2 separate regions of the Homo sapiens genome follow, and region 2 is linked to region 1. The links come from fine-mapping of genetic effects on gene expression. Tissue or cell type: monocytes. Region 1 holds a variant in brackets; the other region holds the start of a gene. All regions are shown on one strand. Distances are between the middles of the regions. Region 1 has its middle 60 kb from the start of ZWINT. Region 2 holds the start of ZWINT (ZW10 interacting kinetochore protein).

The links. PIP is the estimated chance that this variant, and not a neighbour inherited with it, causes the effect.
Region 2: it holds the start of ZWINT, and the variant in region 1 is fine-mapped to the expression of ZWINT in monocytes (Quach 2016, PIP 0.95).

The regions. Positions count from the first base shown.
Region 1 is chr10:56,419,314-56,423,714 of GRCh38, reverse strand. No RefSeq gene overlaps it. Among named protein-coding and RNA genes, the nearest start is that of ZWINT, 60 kb to the right of the region's middle. The variant CAA/A (reference allele first, on the strand shown) is at 2,587.
Region 2 is chr10:56,359,685-56,364,007 of GRCh38, reverse strand. ZWINT (ZW10 interacting kinetochore protein) reads left to right here and starts at 2,749. Exons shown (of 9, transcript NM_007057.4): 1 at 2,749-2,812; 2 at 3,625-3,715; 3 at 3,867-3,990; 4 at 4,155-4,321. The coding sequence starts at 2,772. LOC124902546 (a long non-coding RNA gene) reads right to left here and starts at 2,549. Exons shown (of 2, transcript XR_007062372.1): 1 at 2,152-2,549. RefSeq lists a silencer at 2,482-2,691 and enhancers at 2,782-2,951, 2,300-3,039, 3,779-4,323, 3,665-4,323.

The sequences.
Region 1 (4,401 bases):
TTCAAATCCTTGATGGCGGCATTAATCTAGACAATTCCTTAGGAATTGCAGTTTTTCTTTTGTATTTGTGTTTGTTTTCATTTTTGTTTTCCTGGTTTCCTAGGCAGGTATAGTGGCTTCCACTTAGCCCTTTTTACCATAATAGTCCTCAGTCCACAGGTAAGAAAACCAATATGGACATTTAGCCAGCTGCTGAATATATGTATTCCAATTATGCATTTCAGAACTGGATAAATAACCAAAGGATGGGTTTGGGAAGCCGCTGGATCCATTGTAAGATAAACGTGCGCTAAACCTTTGCTCACCTGACTTCCCAAAGCCCGTACTCTGACTATGGACCTTAGTGACTGTTTGGGTCTCCTGGAATTAGTGACAGTTCAGAGCCAGTGTCCAGTAGTCCTTGAAAGATCTGATTACTTTCTTTTTCCAAATATAGAGTTACTCTGGTAGAAGGCCATAAGTTTATTGAGGAAGACTTGGAGAAAGATTAACAGTATAAATGTTTTAGCAGCGTACCTGGCTAGACCAGCCTACCCTTCATTTAAGGGATTCTGGGTCTGTAAACTGGCTCAAATCTGGGAACTGATTGATGGATTATGACTCTCCCTCCCTATGATTCAGGTTAGATTTTTGTGCACTTGACCTACAACTTTTCTTCTTACATAAATTAAGTAGTAATTTAGTAGGATTCCTAACTATTTCACTTCTAGGAACACCATATTCAACTAGCTGAGACCATAGGTCTGCAAAAGTCAGATTATTTTGACTGCTGCTTTGACTCTGCTGTCCAAGCCAACCTTGCCTTTGTAGTTGAGCACCACAACTTGGCCCCTGCTGTACCCAGAATCCAGTTACTTCCACAGCATTTAGGTTTTCCAATTCAGTGAGCGTGATTCCCATTATAAGGCATGCCTACAGACAAGAGTGACCACAGAACTCTTCAAGGATGCTAGGGTTCCCCTCACAAATATATTTTCCACAGTCATGATGAAAGGTATGTCTTCTGGCTGCTTCCAGTGAGGGTGAATATATCTTGAATCACAAATTCACTCTAACATTCCCATCTTCCTAAGCCATTCAACCCTCTCTCCTACATTAAACCAAGGCAGATCCAGCATTTCCAAATTGCTGTATACCATTTGTGAATCCCATTTTGACCAATGTTTCAGCCAACCAACCAAATTGTTAGAGTTCTTCCTATCTCTTCAAGCTGCCACATTAAATTCAGGATCTCTGCTTAGAGAGCCTATATCAATAAATTCAGCCAGACCTAACTTCATAGTCCTTCCACCACTATCCCACATTTTCACTATCCATTCCCACACATATTCACTATTTATGTACAAATTAGAAAACTCAAGTAGTTATCTTTGAGTGTAGTATACCTCCTGGGTCACACTTTGTACCTCACCTGTAGGGGACTGCTGAGACGTGAGTCTAGTTATAATTCTAGAAGGAAAAATGGTGGTGAGGATGAGTCCTGAGGAAAATCAACATGATCTTGCATGACAACTGCTTCAGGGGAAGCCATTGCAGTTTTCTAAGGCAATGCAGATTTAATCTTCTCTGACAAGAGTGAAGAGGCATCTCCTGTTTAATAGAGTAATGAGGAAAGGCCTACCTCAGGAGGTGTCATTTGAGCTAAATGATGAAAAGGAGGCAGTCATGTAATGGTCTGAATGTTCAAGAAAAATAACAGTATGTGCAAAGACCCTGAGGTGAAAAGGACATTGGCATATCTGAAGAAAAAGAAACTTTCATATACAGTTCTTCTGTGTAAATGTCTCTTGGATATGGAGTTAAAATAAAGAAGAAAATCTAAGTACTTTACACTAGAATACAAACTGAAGTAGATAATATAGTAAAATTTGCAGTTTTGATTCAATAGCAATTTTGATCTCCCAAAAATTATTTTCTGCTATAAAATTATTTGCTTAGAGTTTAACTTGATATATTTCTCCTTAGATTCACTGAAGCTCAAAGCATATTAATCTTTTGTAGTACTGCTATCACTGGTATAAAGATTTTATTCAACTGTATAGGTTATATCAGATTCTTTACTAATTCTTCCCATTGCTACAAATGATACATCCTAACAATGTATGTTCTCTGTTTAGACTTGACATGCAAGACTTTGAAAAATAAAAACTAGGATGAGTAATACATCACAATGAAAATTTCTGGAATTGATACCTTAGTATTTCTTTTGTAATGATTTGTAAATCTATGCATGTCTGTACTAGAAGCATTTCCCTAAAGAAAAGACTGCTCTTTTACTGTTCAGATTTTAAATATGCACATCCTGATCTTAGACATTATAACCAGACTTCCACTATCAGACCCACAACACAATGCTCATATTCACAAACAGCCTCAATCCATAAATAATATTATTTACTATTTGGAAGAGAGCACAGAAAACTAAGGAGCTGTGATGGAAAAGATTTTCACAAGAGTTTAAAAGGAAATAACAGGATGAATACACATTTTGTCTTTACTTCTTTTAAAATTATTAGCTTCTGGTTTAGGTAGCATTGGCTTTCTCTACTTCCTGCACACACACACACACACACACACACACACACA[CAA/A]ATATACACACACACATATGTGTGTAATATACATATTTACATAACATTAATTGTGTAGGTAAGTAAATGGTTGTTCATGGATTTTATAATATTTCAATTGTATATTGATCCGTTAATGTGACTATAAAATATTATATTAAAGCTAGGATTTTTAAAAAGCTGTTAGCTGCACTTACTGAGCCCATGAAAATTGACAAGTAAACATAGAAAACATAACTGCCAAATTATTTATGAAACTTTTCTTAGCATAAGTATTTTAAGGCTGCCCGTGTATCTCCAGATAGATTTGACAGCAGATAAAATAAAATTATCTAATTAGAAAATAGAAAAACAGTTTCTTCAGCCTCAAATTATTCATCAGTATCACTAGGATATGTGCAGAACAATGGTTATAAATGTTGATTTGTACTTACTGGACACTGAGGTAGAGTGAGAGCTTGTGGATATTGGTATTCAGGAATAAGCAATGGCTTTGAAATCTGTATGATCAAGGTTGAGGTTTGTATGTTTATCACCTTCCGGAATAAAGAATTGAAAATGCAGAAGACCAGAAATAATGATAATGAAAAATGCAACAGAAGATATTTGTTTTCTTAATATTTTAATACTCTGGGATTAGGATGCCATTCGTGGTCTACTGTAGAAATAGAATTAGAAATTCAGAGAAGAAAAGGAAATTTTGGCTAGCAAGTTCCTTTTGGATGCTTTCTTAAAGAATTGTAACTTGAGTCACAGTGCAGAAACCTTAAAGTGCCAGCAATGAGGTGAAAGCCATTTCTTATAATTAGAAGTCTGAAACATTTGAAAGGAATAACTAATTAGGACTAGAGAAAAATTTAAGAGAGAAGAGCGTAGACTAAATGGCCTAGTGAACTCTTGGTGTTTGCAAAAAGTATCCGTACTTTTTTTCAGTGCTATAGATATAAACAAATTTACTTGGAGTTGACCAAGGAAAAGATCATTGAAATGCATTTTGGCTATCCTTCCTTCTATGTCTTGAAATCTATAGATGTATGCTGTTTCCCAGTGTGTTCTTTTCAAGATATTCTTCCTATTTTGGAGTAACATTCACAACGACTTTCATAGTGAGATGGACAGTGTAATTTTGAGTTCCTTATTTGAGAGTATTGAATGCCAGAACATGTTCAAATGAGAGGTCAAAAAGAGCCTGTACGGGCAGAAGACTTCCACTTCTATCCTCTTCAGTTTCTTGTTGGGTCCAAGAATTACATTGACTTAAGAAAAGTTTTATAAGGCTTGGGAACCCTCATAAAGAACTGAAGATCAGAAGAACCAGAGTCAGTTACTTATATACTAAATTGGACAAGGAATACTAAACAGTGAAAACATGACTAAAATATGTGGAGGTTTAAAAGATAAGTTATTCTAGCAAAGTCTGTACCGAATTCTCTTAATTTCAACTTCTTGTCCTTGAGGAAAAGGATGCTACGTATGTCAAGTATAGAAAGGGTTTCTTTCACACAGTAACTTCATCTTCTGCTTTTAAGAAACAGTATGAAGATCAAAGTGTTTTTCTTACACCTGCTATTTTTCAAGTGCCTTTTCTTAAATAGTCAATATTCCAGAAGAGCACAATATTTAACCCTCTCAAACCAAATACTTTGTTAAAGGGACTATCTTTCATGCTAGGTATCAAATTTTAGGGTTAGAAAATCAGAGTTTTTGATGTAAAGCTAAAGTTATCAAGTAACTTTTCTACATTATTATACATAATTAAGGTGATCATATAATCTGTCTAAATGTGAGATTCTTTAAAGGAGAAAAGAGGAGGGACAGTTGCTTAGTTAGTCAG
Region 2 (4,323 bases), 60 kb after region 1:
GGTTGACTTTTTTTTATTCTTACAGTACTTGAAAGATGTTACTCTACTGTCTTGCTTGCATTGTTCCAAGAAGAAATTTCCCGTAATCCTTATCTTTGTTTCTATGTAACATGTGCCCCAACACCCCTTATTACTTTAGAATTTTTTATCAATGGTTTTGAGTTATGCAATTATGGTATAACTTGATGTCATTTTCTTAATATTTCTTGTGTTTGAGATTTGTGAAGCTTCTTGAATATATGAATTTATATTTTTCATCACATTTCAAATTTTTTGGTCTTTATTACTTGTTTTCTTGTCCTCTCCCCTTGCCTCTCTGAGACTCCACTTTCAAGTATATTATTAGGCTGTTAGAAGTTGTCTCACAGCTCACCATTGATTTGTTCATGTTACTTTATTTTCATTTTTTAATGTTGTGATTGATTTTGGGTAGTTTCTCTAGAGCTGTGTTTCACTTTCATTCTGCAATGTGTAACATACTATATTAATACCATCTAATTCCATCTATCACATTGTAGTGTTCACCTCTACAAGTTTGATTTAGGTCTTTATTACAAGCTTTGTGTCTTTGATTAACTTTTTTAACAGCTTTTATGACAGCAGTAAAGTGTAAATTTAGCGGTTTTCTGTATAGAATTGTACAACCTTCACCATAACCGAAGTGTAGAACATTTTATTTATCCCTTTAAAAGAAACACTATATCCATTTGCAGTCCCTCCCCATACTCTCTCAACCTCTCATTCCCACCAATCCCCAGCCCTGGACAAGCACTATATAAATTTACTTTCTGTTGCTATAGATTTGTCAAATCTAGACATTTCACATAAATGAAATAATATATTATGTGGTCTTTTGTAATTAGCTTCTTTCACTTAGTATATTTTCAAGGTTCATATTTTAGCATGTAGTAACCATTATTTAGCATGTAATAAAGTTCTCTTTACTACTGATTAATACTTCATTGAATGAAAGTATGCATTTTCACTCACCAGCTAATGGGCCTTTGGGTTGTTTTTACCTTTCAGCTTTTGTGAATAATGCTGCTATAGAGGTTTGTGTACTTTTGTGTCCCCATGTTTTTATTTGTCTTGGATATATAACTAGGAATGAAATTGTGACTCATATGGTAACCCTACGTTCAAAGCCTATGCACCAGTTTACATTTCCATCAACATGAGAATTCCACTTTCTTTACATCCTTAGCACCACTTACCTTTTTCATTATAGTTCTGATATCTTTTTGAAGATATGGGATATAGTTACAATAACTGTTTTAATGTCCTTGCCTGTTGATTCTAACATTACTTCAGTTCTGATCAGCAATTGATTTTTCTCCTCATTATGTGTTTTTTTTTTTCTTTTTGCAAGCTTGGTAATTTTTCTTTGTATGACATATGTAAATTGCACCTTTGGTGAACATTTTTCTATTTCTATAAATACTGCTGAAGTTTGGTCTTGTCATCTGTCATGGTTTGTTAAGTTTGATCCATTTGGGTCTTACTTTTAAGAGTTAGATGGCACTACAGCACTGATCAGCTAGGACTAATTACTGCCTACTAAATAATTAGTAAACAACTATCAAATCAAGACTTTTTTGTGTGTACTCTGTCCAGTGTCCTACGGACTATGAAGTTTTCCAGCCTGGTTAGTGGAAATAGAGACTATTTCTGACCCTCTGTAATGTCCATATATATATATTTATATATATATATATATGTATTTTTTTTTTTTTGTGAGACGGAGTCTCGCACTGTCACCAGGGCTGTAGTGCTGTGGCGCAATTTCGGCTAACTGCAACCTCAGCCTCCCTGGTTCAAGCAATTCTCCTGCCTCAGCCTCCCGAATAGCTGGGATTACAAGCGCCCACCACCACGCCCAACTAATTTTTTTTGTACTTTTAGTAGAGACGGGGGTTTCACCATGTTGGCCAGGCTGGTCTCAAACTCCTGACCTCGTAATTCACCTGCCTCAGACTCACAAAGTGCTGGGATTACAGACGTGAGCCACCGCGACCGGCCATGTCCTGGTATCTTTAAAAATCTTTTAGCTAGTTTCTTGAGACACATACTGCTCAGTACTCAGCTGAATGAATACCAAGTTCTCTCTCAGCAGTTATCTTTCTCCTGTACTCTGCAAAGAACATTACCTACCTTGGTCTCCCCAGAATATCTGTTCTATTTTGCCAACGCAGGCAATCGGCTGGGCTCTGCTTGAGTTCACTCTCCTGCATCGCATCTATAAAATACTAATATCTTTGAAAGCAGCTCGCTTTTTGAGCGCAGATCATTTGCTTCCTGTATCTCCCGGATCACTATTCTTTACTGATTCCCAGCGTCTTAGAAACAGCCCCACTGTTTTTCGGGGTTTTGTTTTTTTTTTTCTACAGCAGTAGTGAATATTTTAAATAAAGTGTCAATGCTGTAAGTTTCCCTTAAAACGCAAACTCAAGGAAATGCTTTCCCTTTTTCGAGTAGAGAAAGAACTTCCACAGGCGCGCGGTCGAGCTCAAGCCCACTTATAGTCTCTGGCACCGCGTAAGGACTAGCGCGCAGGCGCAGAGCCCGTGCGCGCCTAGCCATAACCGCGCTTGCGCCAAGCAGCGAGGCCCGCCAACGAGCGAATCCGCGCCTGCCAATTAGAGCGCACAATGGTCCTTGATGCCCGCCCACTAACCTCTGCAGCCAATCGCCTGCCCCGGCGCGAAGTCGACTGTGACTTCAAAGTAATCTTAGGGATTGTGGGAAGGCAGCTGAACTCGGCGCCTGGAAAGATGGAGGCAGCGGAGACAGAGGCGGAAGCTGCAGCCCTAGAGTAAGTGTTTGCGGCTAAGTGGCAGCTGGGGCCGGGCCTGGGAGGACCTTGTGGGCCCCTATGTGTAATGATTGGTGCCCTCGACCCTGTACAGCTGTTGAGGTTCGACCCTGCCGTGAAGTGATCCTCACCGCAGTCCCGTCTTAGGTTCCTGAGGTGTCTGTTGCCTGCTCCAGGAGTACAGCCTTTGGGGGACCGTTCGCCGCTCCCCACATCCACATAATCCACAGGATGTGCTCTAGGAGACGGTTTCACTTCTGTCTTCTTGTCCCAACACGACACATTCCCAGTCACTTCTCATCCCCATCCCTGCCCCTTCGTAGATTGCTCCAGTCCCTAATAATGAAAAACCCTAGAGTAGACCGAGGCATCCAGCCCTCTGCCCTGAGTCCTTTCTCAGCTATTCCAAGACTCTGCCCCAAGGCTGGTGCTCAGCGCCAGGAGGGATCCCAAGGCCCAGCATTCTTCCCCTTCCTTGCATATCTCCCTGGCTTCCTTCACATCTTGACTCAAATGATTTCTCTTCAGTGAGACACTCCCTATTTAAAATTTCAGCTCTTTTCTCAAACTCCTTATCCACTAGCCCTGCTGATTTTCCTTTTGGCACGTATTACCACCGTGTGCCCTCCATGCACGCCATTCCTGGTTGCAGGCTGTGGACCCTTCAGGCCCTTGTGTAAACTCTGGTCAAGGCAAGACTCTCAATACTATATATACTGATATACACATCCACATTTGTTTGTGTACACACACGAACTGTAGAACTAGCACCACAAGAAACTGCAATTTCCTGTGTTTCCTTGCCCCTCCAGGGTCCTGGCTGAGGTGGCAGGCATCTTGGAACCTGTAGGCCTGCAGGAGGAGGCAGAACTGCCAGCCAAGATCCTGGTTGAGTTTGTGGTGGTATGTACAAGATGAGAGCGAGCCTTTCAGAAGCCAGGGTCTGGTCCTGGCTCCTCTTACTGAGATACAGGGCAGCACTGGCAGAGAGCAGACTTAAGGAAACCTGTAAGGAGGTAAGGATGTTCCCTGTCTCTGCCCTCCCTCTGAGCAGGACTCTCAGAAGAAAGACAAGCTGCTCTGCAGCCAGCTTCAGGTAGCGGATTTCCTGCAGAACATCCTGGCTCAGGAGGACACTGCTAAGGGTCTCGACCCCTTGGCTTCTGAAGACACGAGCCGTGAGTAGGCAGGGGATTGTAGTAGCAGCTGACCTGAGTGGGGAAGGAAGGAGGATTTCAGTTAGGTCTCCCATTTGGCTGATGGGAAGGAGGCCCAGTGTTGCAGGGAGGCAGGCTAGCAGGCCACCCTCACTCATGTACTCATTCCTGGTGGCTCATCTCAGGACAGAAGGCAATTGCAGCTAAGGAACAATGGAAAGAGCTGAAGGCCACCTACAGGGAGCACGTAGAGGCCATCAAAATTGGCCTCACCAAGGCCCTGACTCAGATGGAGGAAGCCCAGAGGAAACGGACACAACTCCGGGAAGCCTTTGAGCAGCTCCAGGCCAAGGT